Regions from separate parts of the Homo sapiens genome. Here regions 2 and 3 are each linked to region 1. The links come from fine-mapping of genetic effects on gene expression. A gene starts in region 1. Each other region holds a variant in brackets. All regions are shown on one strand. Distances are from middle to middle.

Region 1 (6,551 bases):
GCCACTGCCACTACCTTTTCTTAGAAGCAAGCAGATAGGGTTGGTGAATATTTATTGAGAGGGGAATTAGACTCCACCTCTTGATTGGGGGAGTGTCAAAGAATTTGTGAATATGTTTTTAAATGACCACATTTCCCCTTTCTAAAATGCTTGTCTAAATTGGTGTACACAAAAAGCTCGGGGGTTAGTGACTCATCCAAGGTTATTAAGCTGTTAAATGGTTCCACCAATACTAGATCTAATTTTGTGACTCCAAATTTCATGCTCTTTTTCACTACTCCAGATAATCTCCGGTGAACATCATTGTCCATTAGGGTAGTTAAGACATTCTAGCTGCCAAATAGATTCAGTCCTTTTAATTGCCTCGGACAATATATTTTTTATTTTGCAGAAAATAAATATTACCCATATGGCAGTCATCCATAAACACCTTCCAAGTTTATCCCAAACATCTGTGTTTTAAATTTTTTCTCCCAACAGATGTATTCATTTGCATTTTCCCAGATGAATCACTCTTTTTTTGTTGTTGTTGTTATTTTTGACTGTATTTCTCACCTCTCAAGACCCTTTTGTATTATCAAGCCCACTGCTTAAGCTAATACCATCTCCCAATTTGGGGACTTCCCCTTGATTCCTGTGTGCCCTTCCTGTGGGTCATTAATGCAATGTTATTTAAGACTAGGATTTGGCTGGGCGCAGTGGCTCACGCCTGTAATCCCAGCACTGTGGGAGGCCGAGCCGGGAGGATCACCTGAGGTCAGGAGTTCAAGACCAGCCTGACCAACATGGTGAAACCACGTCTCTACTAAAAATACAAAATTAGCCGGGCATAGTCACATGCCTGTAATCCCAGCTACTGGGTAGCCTGAGGCAGGAGAATCGCTTGAACCCGGGAGGCGGAGGCGGAGTTTGCAGTGAGCCAAGATTTCACAACTGCACTCCAGTCTGGGCCACAAGAGCGAAAACCCGTCTCAAAAAAAAAAAAAAGACTAGGATTTGACATAAGGCCTGAGGGGTATTCTTTTGTTTTGTTTTGCCTTGTTTTCAAGAGGCCAAAATCTTCACAGTTGAAAATTTCTGTTGAACCACAGAGATTTGAACCAACTCAGTTTAGAAAGCCTGGGGATTTGAACAACGGTATGGATCGGAAATCTCTTCATCTGTCAGTTTTCATCATTCTAGGCAGTAAAATAGATTTCCCTTTAGGAGCTTTTCACCGTTTGGGGTTCTCCAGCAGTGGGATGTGGGGAATCAACCCTTCTTCGTCTCCACCCAAACATTAGGTGGGAGCAAGGGGTGGGAAGTAGAGAAAGTGGATAGAGGTCTCCAGTGGATATGGGATCTTTGTGTAGACCAGCACAGTCCTCAGAAATCTCATGCAAGCAACATAGGTACTGTTATATTTTCTAGTGGCCACCTTTTAAAAAGTAAACAGGTGAGGCCGGGCGCGGTGGCTCACGCCTGTAATCCCAGCACTTTGGGAGGCCCAGGCGGGCGGATCACGAGGTCAAGAGATGGAGACCATCCTGGTCGACACGGTGAAACCCCGTCTCTACTAAAAATACAAAAATTAGCTGGGCATGGTGACGCGCGACTGTAGTCCTAGCTACTGGGGAGGCCGAGGCAGGAGAATCACTTGAACCCTGGAGGTGGAGGTTGCCACGCTCCACTACACTCCAGCCTGGCGACAGAGTGAGACTCCGTCTCAAAAAAAAGAAAGTAAACAGGTGAAATTAATTTTAATAATATATTTTGTTTAACCCAACGTATCCAAAATACTATCATTTGAAAGTGTAATGAATATAAAAATATTCATGAGATATTTTTCATTCTCATATCCATACTGTCTTGGACTCTAATGTGTATTTTACACTTACAGCACAATTAATTTGGGACTAGCTACATTTCAGCTCAACAATAGCCAATAGCATATGGGATAGCGCAAATAAACTCTGCGTCTCTGTTGCTTCTTTGGGTCTCGGAGACCTCAACCCTTTCTTCAGATTGCAAACCTTCTTGCCTTCAAGCCTCGGCTCCAACACCAGTCCGGCAGAGGAACCCAGTCTAATGAGGTACGCTCCCTTCCTGCCATTCTCTATTCCATTAACCTGTTTCGTGGTAAACGTAGGACTGATCCTCCAAAATTACCTTATTAATTAGCTTACATATTTATTATCTATCTGTCCCACCAGAATGCAGGTTTCCGGAAGGCAGGGATTTAAAAAAATCTGTTTTGTTCTATGTGATTTTCCCATACCAAGCACCGTGCCCGGCACAAGCTGGGATCCCAGTACACATCTCGGGACGGAAGAACCGTGTTTCCCTAGAACCCAGTCAGAGGGCAGCTTAGCAATGTGTCACAGGTGGGGCGCCCGCGTTCCGGGCGGACGCACTGGCTCCCCGGCCGGCGTGGGTGTGGGGCGAGTGGGTGTGTGCGGGGTGTGCGCGGTAGAGCGCGCCAGCGAGCCCGGAGCGCGGAGCTGGGAGGAGCAGCGAGCGCCGCGCAGAACCCGCAGCGCCGGCCTGGCAGGGCAGCTCGGAGGTGGGTGGGCCGCGCCGCCAGCCCGCTTGCAGGGTCCCCATTGGCCGCCTGCCGGCCGCCCTCCGCCCAAAAGGCGGCAAGGAGCCGAGAGGCTGCTTCGGAGTGTGAGGAGGACAGCCGGACCGAGCCAACGCCGGGGACTTTGTTCCCTCCGCGGAGGGGACTCGGCAACTCGCAGCGGCAGGGTCTGGGGCCGGCGCCTGGGAGGGATCTGCGCCCCCCACTCACTCCCTAGCTGTGTTCCCGCCGCCGCCCCGGCTAGTCTCCGGCGCTGGCGCCTATGGTCGGCCTCCGACAGCGCTCCGGAGGGACCGGGGGAGCTCCCAGGCGCCCGGGTGAGTAGCCAGGCGCGGCTCCCCGGTCCCCCCGACCCCCGGCGCCAGCTTTTGCTTTCCCAGCCAGGGCGCGGTGGGGTTTGTCCGGGCAGTGCCTCGAGCAACTGGGAAGGCCAAGGCGGAGGGAAACTTGGCTTCGGGGAGAAGTGCGATCGCAGCCGGGAGGCTTCCCCAGCCCCGCGGGCCGGGTGAGAACAGGTGGCGCCGGCCCGACCAGGCGCTTTGTGTCGGGGCGCGAGGATCTGGAGCGAACTGCTGCGCCTCGGTGGGCCGCTCCCTTCCCTCCCTTGCTCCCCCGGGCGGCCGCACGCCGGGTCGGCCGGGTAACGGAGAGGGAGTCGCCAGGAATGTGGCTCTGGGGACTGCCTCGCTCGGGGAAGGGGAGAGGGTGGCCACGGTGTTAGGAGAGGCGCGGGAGCCGAGAGGTGGCGCGGGGGTGCCACCGTTGCCGCAGGCTGGAGAGAGATTGCTCCCAGTGAGGCGCGTACCGTCTGGGCGAGGGCTTCATTCTTCCGCGGCGTCCCTGGAGGTGGGAAAGCTGGGTGGGCATGTGTGCAGAGAAAGGGGAGGCGGGGAGGCCAGTCACTTCCGGAGCCGGTTCTGATCCCAACAGACCGCCCAGCGTTTGGGGACGCCGACCTCGGGGTGCCGTGGTGCCCGGCCCCACGCGCGCGCGGGGCTGAGGGGTCGGGGGCGTCCCTGGCCGCCCAGCTTTAACAAAGGGTGCTCCTCTCCACCCCGCGAGGAGGGGCAGCTCCGGAGACCCGGTCTTCAGCGAGCGGGGTCTTAGCGCCGGGGAGGTCTACTTCCTTTTGGGGTTGCCATTTTACTATTATTATTGCCTTTTTTTTTTCTTCAAAAGGACTGGAGACTGATGCATGAGGGGGCTACGGAGGCGCAGGAGCGGTGGTGATGGTCTGGGAAGCGGAGCTGAAGTGCCCTGGGCTTTGGTGAGGCGTGACAGTTTATCATGACCGTGTTCAGGCAGGAAAACGTGGATGATTACTACGACACCGGCGAGGAACTTGGCAGGTAAAGGGGGTACCAGAAGCGTACCCTCCTGGATTGTGGAAATGCATAACGATGGGGCCATTGGGTGGTAAACAAATGCAGTTTGAATCAGGCGTCTCCCTCGCCCTTTCTGGAGATGCGCAAATCATAGAGAAAAGAGTTACTAACCCAGCGGTAAACCGCCTGATCCAAGGGCCTGGGGGTGGAGGAGAGGCAGCAGTTCAGGGCTAGATTATGATGCACAGTATATTGATCCAGTCCCCTGGACAAAATCAGATTTAATTGTCCGTGCTAACTCTTGTCAGCCCTTGCCCTTCTGTGACAACAGGACAAACACTAAGATTATAATTGCAATTGGAGTTAGCTTTTATGTGTGATTTAAACGGAGGGTACAAACTAATTAATAGGTTTTAAAAATCTTAGTACTTTACCCTCTATCTAAATTTTCAGTGTAATTTGAGCAAGTATTGGTAGGTGGTAAATGGAGACTTGCCAGATGTTGACATTGGGCTTGGATTTTGAAACTTCTTCCAACCAGGAATTTAATTACCTGGTTGGTGTTGGTGGTTGCTTTGGTTTCATTTACAATGTTAAATTTTTAACAAATCAATGAGAGTCTAATATGGCTATCTGGATTCAGAGCATACCTCCATTGCTGTAGCAGCTGTGATTCTCAGTGTAAAATCTTTCAGTTTCTAGGTAAACAAAGAATAGTTTCTTTCGGGGCATCTAAGGGCTGATTGCTGTTTCCTTTGACTGTGTATTAGACAGAGTGTTTTGGGCTCTGGTCAACTTTAGTAGAAAACCTAGTTTTCATACATACATTTAAAACTGAATTTATGGAATTTGACTGTGGTGTATTTACATTGTGAGTGGAGTAGGCAAAAGGATCTTTAAACAAACAAAATATGTATTTACTTATATGTGCATTGAAATATGTATTTTCCCATATACATCTGATGTCCTGATACAAAGCTTCCTTTTTCTCCATGAAAAGGAAATTAAAAAACACCCACATCCTGGATTGCCTAATGAGAATTATGGAAACTAAGCTTAACTAAATTTTTTTAAAAATTCAAATGATAGTGTAGAATTTTTTTAAAAGTTACTGTAACAGAGTATTTCTCTAAATATTTAGTATCGACTGAAAACATAGATGGGGGCCTGTGCTTAGGAAGAGCTCTCTGTATATTGATGATCTGGTGAGTAAATAAGGAAAGCTCTTCAAACATCACATTTCATGGATATGTTTAAGATTAAAGTTTAAGAGTGTGTGGGTGAAATATTTGGTTTAACTGGAATTAAATAACTTTACTGTGGTTTTCAGCAAGATGAGTGGTATTTGGAGTTTTCCTTTGGGACTGGAAGAAAAAAGCAAAAAAATAAATTTTAATTTGATTTGCATAGTGTGGCCTGATCGTTTAAGTGTTGTTAGAAAGAGAGATGACTAAAATTAGTTGAGATTATTATATTATGGATTAAGTATATTGACCTTATTTTCATTATGATTTTTTGGTACCATTATGTGTTATGAGAAAGAAATAGAAAAAGAGGCCTCCCTGTGGTTGGCGAAGGGAGTTTTTGATCTTTATTTCGTGGGCGTGATGATGAGGGGAGGGAGGTGGCTTACTTATTTGTCACTAGCACTTTGATTTGCTCAGTGTACATTTTTGTGTATAACGTTCTCCCCACTGTGCAAGGCAAATTGACAAATTGTTTATTAAATAATTTGTGTGACCTAGGAATTTTAAAGAAATGCTCTGAAAAACTGGAAGTCTGAAGTTTTTAAAAATGAAATGTACAGACTCATCTATCTTGTATAACTGCTATTGTTTTTGCCAAAAAATGAGTGAATGATTGTTTTTTGGAAAATTTTTCAAGTCCTGATTTTATGTCTGCCTTGGATGTAGCCACTTCCTGAAAACAAGTCCTAATGTAAAATGGACATGTAGGAAGATGCTGCTTATATGACATCACGTGTCACTGAGGGAAGATTGGGAGTGGAGGCAGGAGTTTGGTGGCAGGAAAATGGAAATGGGCAGATATGTGGCACAAATGCAAGGTCATTCTAAGCAGTGAATTACTAGTAGACCAGTATCTAAGATTTAAGACTTTACTTGGCCAGGCGAGGTGGCTCACACCTGTAATCCCAGCACTTTTGGGAGGCTGAGGTAGGCAAATCACGAGGTCAGGAGTTCAAGACCAGCCTGGCTAACATAGTGAAACCCTGTCTCTACTAAAAATACAAAAAAAATTATCTAAGATTTAAGACTTTAATTGGCCAGGCGCAGTGGCGCGCGCCTGTAGTCCCAGCTATTTGGGAGGCTGAGGCATGAGAATCGCCTGAACCTGGGAGGCGGAGGTTGCAGTGAATGGAGATCGCGCCACTGCCCTCCAGCCTGGGTGATACAGCGAGACTCTGTCTCAAAAAAAAAAGAAAGAAAAAAAAGACTTTACTTATATATCTTTAGCAGTCATCTAAATAATAACGATTCACTTACCTTATAAATGTAGTGAGACAAAGTACATAGCCAGGAGGAAAGATGGGTTTTTGAAGAAGTAGAGTACAAGTATTATTGTTAATGTTATTTTACTTTTAGGAAAATTGAAAATGTTCGTATTTGTGTGTACTGCCTAAGACTTCTGTAAAAGCTCTCTGTCAA
Region 2 (6,551 bases), 67 kb before region 1:
TGCACTGTCTCAGCCTCCTCAGTGAAAGCAGACTCAGCAGATGAGTGTGTTCCTGTACCTTCCAGCTTTATGCTTTTCCTGTGGTTGACAGAAAGGAGCTGGAGTGGATTGGAGGAGAAGCTGAGATGGATTAGGAAACTACTTCCTTTTCTACAAGCTTACTTCAGGAATAGTCAATCAAGGCTCTTCAACGTGACTAAACATTGCGTTAAGCATCCTTTGGCTTGAAGACATCAGCTTTCTAAAATGAGGGCTATTAAGGCAAGTGGCTGTGTAGGGCCTCATGCATTATGAATTTGCTAGTCATGGATGAATACAAATTACCTTGCAATCAGGACACAGCTGGTAATTAGAAACAACTCTTCTTTTGATTCAATTAACCACCTGAAGAAATTAGGTTTTGATTTAGATTTGGGTTGGAATGCTGTAGTCCCCTTTAAAACAAGGAGAAAAATGGACAATTCTGAAGCGTAGAACATCTCTTCCAGATTTGCAACAGGGAAGTTCTCTCCATTATGGTTAAAAATCAATAAATTAAAAGAAAATGACCCACCATGTGTCATTGTTGTGAATAATTGCCATTGATCAGCTCAGGAGGGAGAATGGGGCAGAATAGCTTCCATTTCCGAAATCAGATCTTCCCCACAGTTGAGACAGCCTCCTGCTCTAACTGGTTTGACAAGAGGAGACTGACCTACGGTTGGGAAGCTGGCCAGTGATTACCCAGGGAGTAGGTAGCAGCTCAAAGGTGGAAACACAGAGGTCCTTATTTTCCAATCCACTGCACACTGCCTATAGCACACAACACCCACAGATGTGCAAAACGAAGGAGGAAATGTGTGACCTCTTCTGAACTGAATCTTGTTGTCCTCTCTGAGCTTAGGACTCTACTGAAATGCTAGATAGAAGCAGAATGTGTTCCCCCACCTCCACCCATGACAAGACAAGTGCTTTAATAAAATCTAAGAAATGTGGTCCACATCCCAGAAGAAAGGTGTTGCCTAGCAGCAGTGACCTTTAAAGAAAGGCCAGACAGACTTTTCCTAAAGGATTTTTAGGATATTGGGAGTCAAGTTTCCTGATGATTTATCTAAATATAGTACTGAGAATTTACCACCTGCATTATTGGAGGGAGCCTTTGAATACTCAGCCTCCAAAGATAAATATTAATAATAATGTCCAACACGTACTTGGTGCATTGTTTCACAAAGCATGGTACACATCCCTGTACAGATGCCACAGATGGTATGCAAAGTGATTTTAGGTACTATCTGATGAATATTTGTTATTTTATAGGTTATGTAATTGTTTTAAAATGTGTTTGAAAACGTAACCATTTCACCATTCATCAGATTGAATGAAGATAGACTGGGTGTGTGGGCTGAGGCAGGAGGATCACTTGAGCTCAGGAGTTCAAGGCTACAGTGAGCTATGATTGTACGATTGCAGCACTGCAATCTGGCCTGGGTGACAGAGCAAGACCCTGTCTCTCAAAGAAAATTTAAAAAATACAAAAAGAATAAACAGAGTTGATTAGGATGAAACTAAGTTTTAAGAAGTGATTTAAATAAACTCAGTTTTAATGTTTAACTAAAGAAGAGCCAGTTTTAAATATGGCTGACATTTTGCAAGGAATAATTTGGTGCTTGTTTTGTTCTAGGCACTTTGTACAGGATTGCAGTCTCTCCTTCATTCCTTGTTTTTCTGGAAACTCAGGCTAATCATATCTGTGAGTTGGTGAAATGGAACTTACTCGGGTTTTGTTTTTTTGTTTTTTTTGGTGTTTTTTTTGAGATGGAGTTTCACTCTTGTTGCCCAGGCTGGAGTGCAGTAGCGCAATCTCAGCTCACTGCAACCTCCACTTTCCAGGTTCAAGATATTCTCCTGCCTCAGCCTCCCAAGTAGCTGGAATTACAGGCATGTGCCACCATGCTCAGCTAATTTGTGTATTTTTAGTAGAGACAGGGTTTTGCCATGTTGACCAGGCTGGTCTCGAACTCCTGACCTCAGGTGATCCAACCACTTCGGCCTCCCAAAGTACTGGGATTATAGGCATGTGCCACGTGCCCGGCTAATTTTGTGTGTGTGTGTGTGTATATATATATATATATATATATACACAAAAATATATATATATATATATATATATATATATATATATATATATATATATATATACATATATTTTTTTTAGTAGAGACAGAGTTTCTCCATGTTGGTCAGGCTGGTCTCTAACTCTCGACCTCAGGTGATCCGCCCACCTTGGCTTCCCAAAGTGCTGGGATTACAGGCATGAGCCACCACGCCCGGCCTTGTTTTATTTTCTAAACACTTCACCCTTTGAATTAAATCCTCTTGGGATATGGAGTTTGCAGGATTACTGACAGACATATGAAATTCTCCTGCTTTAAACAGAAAGCTTTAGAATTATTTCAGGGTTGTGATAGATACCAATTCATGAAGACAGACAGTGTACATCTTTTCCCAACTCTGCATTCAGGGACAGTACATTGGTAGCTTGAAACTGGCCATCATGAGAGTATTTGCACCACAGATATTGGCAAATTCTATAAGTTAGGAACCAGTGGTGGTGGCATGGCCTGTAGTCCCAACTACTTGGGAGGCTGAGGTGGGAGAATCACTTGAGCCCAAAAGTTTGAGACCAGACTGGGCAACATAGCAATAATCCATCTCTTTAAAAAAAAAAAAGTGTTAAATTAGGGGTTGGTTTTTGCTTTTTCTGGAGAAAATATTTAACAACCCTGCTGTTAAGTATTTTACCAAATAAAGTTGTATTCAACCTGATCTTAAAGTCTACCTGCAACAGATTGCTAGGTCCCTACAGAACCAGAAACATCCACCTAACCATTAGCTATAAGTATGATAGCAGAAGAGTATTGCATGGGATAGGACCTTCATAAGGGGGCAGGATTTTAAAGTATCTCTTTATTTGTTTGTTTAAAATAATATTTATCCCTACCTTCCTTCCATTCATTCATTCATTCTTTTTAGTTCTTCAACTTTTCCTTCAAGCTCCAGGGTACATGTGCAGGATGTGCAGGTCTGTTACATAGGTAAACGTGTGCCATGGTGGTTTGCTGCACAGGTCATCCCATCACCTAGATGTTAAGCCCAGCATCCATTAGCTATTCTTCCTGATGCTCTCCCTCTCCTCACTCCATCCCCGAGAGGCCCCAGC[G/C]TGTGTTGTTCCCCACTATATGTCCGTGTGTCTTCTCATTCAGCTCCCACTTATAAGAGAGAACATGCGGTGTTTGGTTTTCTGTCAAAATATCTACTTTTGTTACATGGCTAAAAGTGAGCCATTGACTTTTTAAAGAGATGCCTGGCCAGTATATTTTTCAAATGCTACCAGAAAATCAATCTGTTCTCTACCCATTTATGCTACAAACCATTCTTAACACACTGTAACTAACTGAAATCTGATTCATAATAAACACCAGGCTAATATCAAAAGAGAAGAGAAGTGGAGATGTCACAAGAAGTCAATAAGCAAGCTAAAGATGGTGTGAAGGGGGAGGGGAATAATGTTGCTAGGCAACCATCCCTAGTAGTTAATTCACATGTGTAGATACGAGAGCCTTGTTTTCCTCAGCACCAGCTAGCCCCAGTGTTTCCCCACTACCTACTTTGATGTTTCTGTAACCTACCAGAAAGTATCTGTGGGGGTCCTTAAAGTCCAGGACCCAGGGGTCAGCCTGATTGGCTAACCCCTCTAGAGATTAGAACTTCAGAAGATGTGTAAGCATTCTGCTTCCCTTTTAGATTTATATTTGTGGCTTCCCACTTGACAAATACTACAATCTTGCATGCATAAGACTCATTACAGCAGGGCCGGCTAATTCCCCAGTGGACATTTCATCACTGATTTCGAGCACACACCATGGACTGATGGATTACACCTTCTGTGGCAAGGGTGATCAGATTGCATTGATTCCAAGCTGAGAAAGTCACAGTTCTCACTGGGCTTCACTATTGCAGGAAGTTGGCCACTGCACGGCCTCCACATTGTATGGCTCCAGGAAATATACTTTACATTGTTGTCTAGGCTAAAGATACACTGCACAGAAATTATCAATTCCCTCACAGATGAAGAAAGCAAGGGCCTTAGAGAAAGGTGACTTCAAGCTGTTTAACTCGCTAATAGCAGAACCAGGATTATACCTCAGGTCTCTGGGTCATAATCTTTCTAATACACTAAATTGCCTGCCATATGTTTTTATTTTATTTTATTTATGTATTCATTTATTTATTTTTGAGACAGAGTCTCACTGAAAATAGAAAAATTAGCCAGGCATGGTGGTGCATGCCTGTAATCCCAGCTACTCGGGATGCTGAGGCATGAGAATTGCTTGAATCCAGAAGGCGGAGTTTGCAGCGAGCCAAGATTGTGCCACTGCACAATTGTGCCTGGGCCACAGAACAAGACTCCATCTCAAAACAAAACAAAACAAAACAAAACAAAAAGGAAGAAGAAAATGGGCCAGGCACGTGACTCACACCTGTAGTCCCAACACTTTGGGAGGTCAGAGCAGGCAGATGGCTTGAGCCCAGGAGTTCAAGACCAGCTGGGGCTCAAGTCATCTGCCCACCATGTTTTACCATGTTTTTCTCTACAAAAAAACACAAAAATTAGCCAGACATGGCGGCATACACCTGCAGTCCAAGTTACTTGGGAGGCTGAGGTAGGAGGATTACCTGAGTCCAGGAGGTAGAGGCTGCAGTGAGCCATAGTCACACCACTGCACTCCGGCCTGGGCAACAGAGTGAGACCCTGTTGGAAGGAAGGAAGGAAGGAAGGAAGGAAGGAAGGAAGGAAGGAAGGAAGGAAGGAAGGAAGGAGGGAGAAGGCAAAGAAAGAGAAAGAAAGAAGGGGAAAGAAAGGAAGAAAGAAATGAAGGAAGGAAAGAAAGGAGGGGAGGGGAGGGGAAGGGAGGGGAGGAGGGGGAGGAGAGGGGAGGAGAGGGGGTCCACCCCAAGACTGAAGTCCCTCCCTGGATCCTTGGCTGTCCATTGCTGAGTCCTTCTCTAGAGGCCAGAGTTCCCTGCCCAGTTGGAGTCCTAGTTATTAAATAAAACCTTCTCTGGTACACTTCTGTGATTCAGAACTCCCTCAGACAAATAAATCCACCATGTCTTCCCTCTCGATCAGCCTCAATCAAAACCCAAAGTCCCGTGTTGAACCTGGAGTCTCCCCTCACTGTTAGCACCACACTGTATTGTGCTTCAACAATGTAAAACCTTGCTCTTCTCCTTCCTCCCAACACTTTTGGCAGCTCCTGGTCCACAAAGACTCCACTCATTATTGCCTCCACCTTCACGCCTTTCCCTGAGATTAATGCTCTCCTATGGCCCTCCCAAGTGAGGGTACTTTTTCTCCAACTCCCAGTGAAGGTCAGGGCACTGCCAGACAAGTTCTCCCTCACCATTCAAGTGAGACATAAAGATTCTCACACTATGAGCCCATTCTGCAAAGGTCATGCCCTCTCCAAATCTCCTTGTCCAAATCTTCAGATCTTTTTCTTTCTGAAACCCTGCTCATCTGGCCAGAACCACTGTCCAGAAATTGGAATAGAATCTTTTTCTTCAATCTGCTCTTCCAGGCCAAGTAGACAGAGATATACTATTCAAAGTTTTTCCCACTAGTCTCAGGTTGAAATTCTTTAATTGCTCACTTCTGGTGGAAGCTGGCATGTCAAGCCAAAACATCTGTGAATAGGATCAAGTTGGGTTTCTAGAAAATCTTTCGTCATAGGGAGCCATTCATACAGTCACAAGTGCAGACTAAAGAAAAGTAAAATGTGTGGCAGGAGAAGGTATATGGGGAGTGTGAACCATGTAGTCATGCAAACACTATTTGTATCAGGGCTGGCTTAGACCTAATCCTATAACTACTTCTTATGCTTGATGACTGAAGGCCTGACTTCATGGCTGAATGGATCAGACAGTATCCAGTTCATGATCATTCATTTAAGTAAATCCCAGTAGCAAGTCAGGAGCTGTTTCTTAAAGGAGAATAGTTACTTGTTTAAGAGAACATAACATTGGTCTATAATATTTAAGGTCTCTGTTGTAATTTGCCTGTCTGGACTTGCCAAGCTTCATATACACTCCAGGTACTCCAGGAACTATTGAATATTCTGAGCCAAAAGACAAAAGTAGAATCAAGCCCAACGGAGAGTCGTATCTTATTCTGGGCTCCATTCAAAGCTGCCAACAACTTTGGGATTCACTTGGTAAATTGGTCCAAATAGGACACCCATGGTGAAGAAGCTTCACGATGCGCCACACCTCTTTTTTTAGTAGTAAGAAACACAGTGTTCAGCAACATGTGTTTCCTATTGAAAAAGATAATAACTTAATAATCATCAAACCACTGGAGCTCCAGAATCTTTACATAGGTTATTTTGCAACATCCTTTATTTGTGTGTCTTAATAGAACAACTGGAGAACCTACTACTGCTTATTCTCCAGGGCTTATCAGCATAATGTCAGTGCAGGCATTAGTGGTATAATACGGTAGATTGATGATT
Region 3 (6,551 bases), 62 kb after region 1:
GTGATTCAAAACATCTTTTGTGAGCTCTAAAACCATGCCGATTAAGGAATTATGAATTTAAAATAATATTAAATGGTCAGTAGCTTTTATTGACAAATGATCTTGGGACAAAGCCATTAGATTTTTTTTCTATCTCTTACAGAACCCCCCTCCTGTTAAAACATTACTCATTGAGAAGTGATCCATTAAAAGAAAAATGTGTTGGATTTTAAAAAATACCTAATCCTTGGCAGGGCGCGGTAGCTTATGCTTATAATCACAGCACTTTGGGAGGCCAAGGTGGGTGGATCACTTGAGGTCAGGAGTTCGAGAACAGCCTGGCCAACATGGTGAAACCTCGTCTTTACTAAAATTACATAAATTAGCTCGGTGTGGTGGCATGCACCTGTAGTCCCAGCTACTTGAGAGGCTGAGGCTTGAGAATCACCTGAACCTGGGAGGCGGAGGTTGCAGTGAGCTGAGATGATGACATTGCACTCCAGCCTGGGTGACAGAGTGAGACTCCGTCTGAAGACAAACAAACAAAAAACAAAAACCGAATCCTTTAGCCAGGCGTGTCTCTTGTTGGATAAGTCAGTTTGGAATCTTTTGGATGTTTTCCTTCTTTTACTTGCTCAGCCATAATAAATCTTTCATTTTAATTTTGATCAGCAGCATTGTGAGGTCCTGCCCAGTGTGGTAATGGGCAGTTAGCTTGTCACAGTCCTGTCATCTTGCCAGCCCCTTGAGAGCTGCCAGAAGCTTGTGGTCTGTCTGGTTTCACATGGTGGTCATGGACTCTCTTAGGGACTCACATGTTACTGCACAGTGGGTATGCATCTTGGCCTGTCAGCACCTCTCCCTGAAGCATCCCAGGAGCTATTTACCAAAATGGATCATGCTCTTTTGTCAAGAGCAGGCCACTGGACTGCATTGCACCCCTGAGGATATACCCACAGATCAACGGGACAGAATAAATAAAGCAAGATGAAAAAGAATGAAGGGATCTAGTCGAATAAGCTTTGCAACTAAAAATCTTCCATGAATACAGGATCTCAGAATCACTTGATAATATGCTCCACATACATAAGTACACATATGCACACACACACAGCCGTGTGAGTACAGATACACAAGCTGTAAGGTGGTCATTGCACACCAACGTCCCTTTCGACGAAAACGAACAATTCCTCGATACTAGCTGGTCTCTTGGTTTCTGCTGTTTGTGACTTGTCATTGCAGGGAAGGGCTGTGATGGAGGGAGTTTTTGTTGACTTGGTAGTTCCTGTCTGCAGACCCCTTCATTGCTTCATTGGATTCCTTGGACAGCCTGCTATAGCCACATGGGGGCTCAGTTAGAGCCTGCTCTGTGAGCTGCATCTACCCATTTGGGCTCCCACGTGCAGAAAGCATGATTCCCATGCTCCATGTGGGCGGACTCCTGTTAGGCAGGTGGGAAAGGAGAAACCAGACTGCCTGGAACCTGCCCACAGGGCCTCTACCCAGTGGGGCATCAGGGAGGTACCACCCATTCCAGTCACTTGTTGAAAACTGTTCCCACTCTGGGGGAGGGGAGGGTAAGTCATGGTCTCTCTCTGTAAGAAATCACAGGTGCATGTGTGTGCACATGCATGCACCAGCTATCTCCTCCTTCTCCCCAACAAAATGACAGTTGGCATTCGTAGAGCCTGTACTCTGAGACGGGGATTTTGTGCTTGACGTGTATTATCTAATTTAATCTACTTAACCCTATAAGTTAGATGAAATATTATCCTTGTTTTACAAATGAAGAAATTAAGGTAGAGGTAATGTGTCATCTCTAGTACTCTAGAGTTTCTAATGCCCCAGGTATGCTTCTTTTTATTACAGGATAGGCTAGGGTAGGCTAGGGTAGGCTAGGCTAGGGTAGGGTAGGGCAGGGCAGGGTAGTGTAGGGTAGGGTAGCATCTACACCAATGCTGTGCATAGACCTTTCTGCAATTATGGGAATGTTCTGTGCCGCCCAGTGTGGTAACATCTAGCCACATGTGACTGTTGAGCATGTGAAATGGGACTAGTGTTTCCAAAAAGGTAAATTTTTAATATTCTTTAATTTTAGTTAAATTTCACTAGCACCGTGACTAGTAGCTACTGTGGTGGACTTTCCCTGCAGCTGAGGGCCCTCCCAGGACGCTCTCAAAAGCAGGATGTAGGACGCCTTGGACTTGATTAGCACTGTTTGATCATTGATTGATTTGAAAGATCTTTGCTGAGCCCCTCCTAGGTACTAAGCAGCTCAGGCTGTGAGAATGTCTGAACTCCAAGAATTGCTGCATGGTTCTTTTTGAACTGAGACCAGTGAGCAGGCGAATGTCTACAATAGTCCCGGGTGTTGGAAAGGACTCTGGTGTGGACCTTTGATGCCTGCTGCCCCAGTGAGTGACCCAGTGTCACCAGACTCGTGTGCCCACTCCTCAGAAAGGCCCCCATTCTTCATGCCCCCTATCTTGCCCTTCCTCTGCCTCCATCCGCTTCTTTTGTCTCCCCACCTTGGTTTATGAAGTCTCCTCTCTCCTCTTCCCTCCTCTGCCCTTGAATCTTTTTCTTTCCTTTTTTCTTTTTTTGTTTTTTTTTGAGACGGAGTCTTGCTCTGTCGCCCAGGCTCGATCTTGGCTCACTGCAACCTCCTCCTCCCGGGTTCAAGCTATTCTCCTGCCTCAGCCTCCCTAGTAGCTGAGATTACAGGTGCATGCCACCACGCCTGGCTAATTTTTGTATTTTTTTTTTAGTAGAGACGGGGTTTCGCCATGTTGACCAGGGTGGTCTAGAATTCCTGACCTCAAGTGATCTGCCTGCCTTGGCCTCCCAAAGTACTGAGATTACAGGTGTGAGTCACCATGCCCAGCCTGCCCTTGGAACTTTAAAATTTATTTGAAAGTTTATTTTAATATGTGGTTACAATCACATAACATTACATTTACCATTTAAACATTTTAAAGCGTGCAACTGAGTTGTGTCAGCTATATCACATTGTTGCGTGACACTTCCCCAGAACTTTCTCATCTTGCAAAACTGAAATTTCGTGCCTA[C/T]TAAACACAAACTCCCCCTTCCCCTACCCCTTGGCAGATATGAGTCTACTTTCTGTTTCTGTGATTTGGACTACTTTAGATACCTCACATGAGTAGAATCACACAATATTTGTGCTTTTGTGACCTGCTTATTTCACTTAGCATGATGTCCTTGAGGTTCATCCACGTTGAGGCATGTGTCAGAACGTACTTTTTTTTTTTTTTTTTTGAGACAGTCTTGCTCTGTCACCCAGGCTGGAGTGCAGTGGCATGATCTCCACTCACTGTAACCTCCACCTTATAGGATCAAGCAATTCTCCTACCTCAGCCTCCCGAGTAGCTAAGATTATAGGCACCCACCACCACGCCCGGCTAACTTTTGTATTTTTAGTAGAGACGGAGTTTCACCGTGTTGGCCAGGCTGGTCTTGAACTCCTGACCTCAGGTGATCCACCCACCTCGGCCTCACAAAGTGTTGGGATTACCAGTGTGAGCCACCGCGCCTGGCTAGGATGTGCTTCCTTTTTAAAGGCTGCATTCTATTCCATTATGTGTATAAATCTCATGTCATGTAGTCATTCATCCATCAGTGGACATTTGAGTGCCCTTGTCTTTTACTTTTTTGTCCTTTCCCTTCATTTTCCCCAAAATAAAATATGAAATTAAAATAGCGGAACCAATAATATATTAGATGAGGAGCCGTTTGTGCTTATTTCCTATCTTTTGGGCAGCAAGAGTTGAGCCTTTATGCCCTCCCCAATCATTGCTACAAAATACACCAAATATGTGGCCGGGCGTAGTGGCTCACGCTTGTAATCCCAGCACTTTGGGAGGCCAAGGCGGGCGGATCACGAGGTCAGGAGATCGAGACCAGCCTGGCTAACACGGTGAAACCTCGTCTCTCCTAAAAATACAAAAAATTAGCCGGGCGTTGTGGCGGGCGCCTGTGGTCCCAGCTACTCGGGAGGCTGAGGCAGGAGAATGGCGTGAACCCGGGAGGCGGAGCTTACAGTGAGCCGAGATGGCACCACTGCACTCCAGCCTGGGCGACAGAGCGAGACTCCGTCTCAAAAGAAAAAAAAAATACACCAAATATGTTAGCCAGAGTGAATTTCTATTCTAATGAAACCTTTCATTGATTTTTTATTTCTCTGGGTCATTAACTTCCCATTGAATAAAGAAATTCCCCAGACCTGCCCTGGGGGATTCCCCTGCTCCATGGAAGTTTGATAGGCATTGCATTTGGGTGCTAGAAATGGAAGCCCCTTAGACAGCAGTTTACTTAAGTTAAAGGTTCATTTTCTTCTCATCCAGAAGTGGGGCTGTGTGTGGACAGTGCTTATCTGGCAGCTCCTCAGTGCCATTGGAGACCCAGGCTCCCTGGGTTCTGCCCCCCTCCTTAGGGTGTCAACCAGAGCTGCATCCACCATGCCCAGGGTTCAAGCAAGGAGAAGGGAAGGGAAGCAAAAGGGGGTGCACTCCAGCTTTACTGGCCCCCTGAATGGGCATCCCTGTGAGCTGCCTGCAAGGGGCTCTGCACACTTCTCATCATCCAGACTGGGCCACAGGGACCCTCACTCCACCCCAGAGCATGGAGAAGAGATGCATCGCTGCCCTGAGTAATGTGGGGATTCTCATGGGGAGAGGGAAGGGGGTTGTGCAGGGCAGGCCTCCTGCAGTTCTGTATCTACCTGGTGGTCTTCAGTGTTTACCTTCTTGGGGTTCAGGTGATGGAACGAAGACACAGCAGTTGAGCTATATGTTCATCATAGTTATACTGAGTTAGGATGGGCAAAGTCATGCCACTGTAACAAACAACCCCAATAGCGAACGTGAGTTAGTTGGAGCCTTGTCCTCCTGTGTCGTAACTCCAGGACTGAAGGTAATGAAGCCTCCACTGTGTGGAAAGTTGCAATCACATTGGTGAGGAAGAGGCTGTCACAAATTAAGGACTGGGTCTTGAGGCTTTCGTCGGGAACCAACAGGAGGAGTTGAGCCCACTTTCATTGGCCAGAAGTCACATGGCCACACTCAATGTGAAAGCATGGGTGTGTCCTCCTACCTCATGCTGAAAGGAGAGGACCCTGAAATATTTGATGACTGTCACTGCCACAGTAGTTATTTAAATAGAGAATTCTATAATATTTTTATAGAAAAGAGTATTAGGAATTGAGTCATTTGCTATCTCAAAGGCTCTACATTATTTACACCTGAAAGAAGTTGAGATTGTCCATGTAACCACCTGACATACTGTTTTGCTTAATTTAAAGCACACTGTCCAGAAGGAAATAAATAAACCTTGCCAAGTGTAATTCATCAAATAATAGCATGTCAGGTGCCCAAATTTGGAAGACAGATTGAAGCAAAAGTCTGCTGCTATTGCAGAGCAAAGACAATTTGCTTTATATTAAACTTAAGGAATGATTTAAAGAGGATTCTTCCCAGGCATGATGACTTGCTCAGCTTTTTTATAGAACCTCAAACAAGTGCTGACCTCTTAAACTTTTTTACTTTCTTCATGACAAATGATGTGATTTGGAGTGAAGGTTGGACAATGGAAGGAGGGTGATGATCCGCCTAGAGATTTGGTACTGGTGAATTTCAGGGGCAGATCTTGGGCCCCTCTTTGTGAAATGCTCATGTTTCTATTCTGTTGTCTGGAAGCATTTTGTAAGCAAAAGAGACTTTTTGTTCTTTATTAACTGTACCTTCCGGCATTCTTTCCTGGTAAACTCCAATTTCTAAGTTTATAAGTACATGCATTTGTCAGAATTTAGTCAACCAATCCACACAAATTTATTAAACACATACTGTATGAGGAAGAATATGGGAGTAGCAATTGAGGGCACAAAGATGAATATGATTTTTAAGCTCCTTGAATGCTTTTGAATTTAAGTGGTTCACACTCCCATTTGAAAGATACAGTGTGAACACCTGCACTAACACTATTTATTTCCACTCTGGGATGGGTTGTAGTGTTCATGGTCTCAGAGAACTGTGCCTCCCTGTTGCATCTTGGCTTGACTCCCCGTATTCCCTGAATTGGGGCTGGCCTTGTGGCTTGCTCTGCCCAGCAGAGTCTTGCAGAGAGACATGTGTGATGTCCAAGGTTAGACCTTGCTCTTGTGGGACACTTTGCTTTTATGTAAAGATGCTCTGTCAAGCCTCCTGGAGGATAAGAGGCCATGTGAAGTGAGAGGCCCAGCCATCAGTCAGCACACACCACCAGATGTTCAGGTGAGGCTGTCAGCCCACCAGCCAGCACCTCCCACCCCACCGCCTCTCAGACTGCAGACATGTGGCTGAGCCTAGCCAGCACCAGGAGGAGGAGATGACCTGCCCAGCTGAGCCCAGCCCATGTTGCAACCCACAGAGTTGTGAGCATGTGAATGATTGCCATTTGGGCCCCTAAGGTTGGAGTGGTGTGTTCGTGCCCAATGGTTGATCAGTGTCCACTCCCTGCTCATGCCCTCTGTGACAGCCGCGTAGACCTTCTTGCCACAATGGCATAGTTTTTGGCGCCAT

Alleles and levels. Positions count from the first base shown, and alleles are read on the strand shown. Sizes are in standard deviations (SD) of each study's normalised expression. Not every link is listed here.
For the expression in monocytes after LPS of the gene that starts at base 2,637 in region 1, allele C in region 3 goes with a higher level than allele T (large effect, 1.1 SD a copy in Quach 2016).

The links. PIP is the estimated chance that this variant, and not a neighbour inherited with it, causes the effect. A credible set is the group of variants that fine-mapping cannot tell apart.
Region 2: its variant is the best candidate, but not a certain one, in a credible set for the expression of DAPK1 in whole blood (INTERVAL, PIP 0.62).
Region 3: its variant is the best candidate, but not a certain one, in a credible set for the expression of DAPK1 in monocytes after LPS (Quach 2016, PIP 0.64).

The regions. Positions count from the first base shown.
Region 1 is chr9:87,495,231-87,501,781 of GRCh38, forward strand. It overlaps DAPK1 (death associated protein kinase 1), which reads left to right and starts at 2,637. Exons shown (of 26, transcript NM_004938.4): 1 at 2,637-2,877; 2 at 3,740-3,909. The coding sequence starts at 3,848. RefSeq lists silencers at 2,286-2,345, 2,366-2,715, 3,086-3,275, 3,486-3,595 and an enhancer at 2,986-3,743.
Region 2 is chr9:87,428,162-87,434,712 of GRCh38, forward strand. No RefSeq gene overlaps it. Among named protein-coding and RNA genes, the nearest start is that of DAPK1, 66 kb to the right of the region's middle. The variant G/C (reference allele first, on the strand shown) is at 3,200.
Region 3 is chr9:87,557,431-87,563,981 of GRCh38, forward strand. All of the region lies in intron 2 of DAPK1 (death associated protein kinase 1), which reads left to right. Among named protein-coding and RNA genes, the nearest start is that of DAPK1-IT1, 7.3 kb to the left of the region's middle. RefSeq lists enhancers at 2,329-2,498, 4,551-4,720, 6,360-6,551 and a cis regulatory region at 4,636. The variant C/T (reference allele first, on the strand shown) is at 3,048.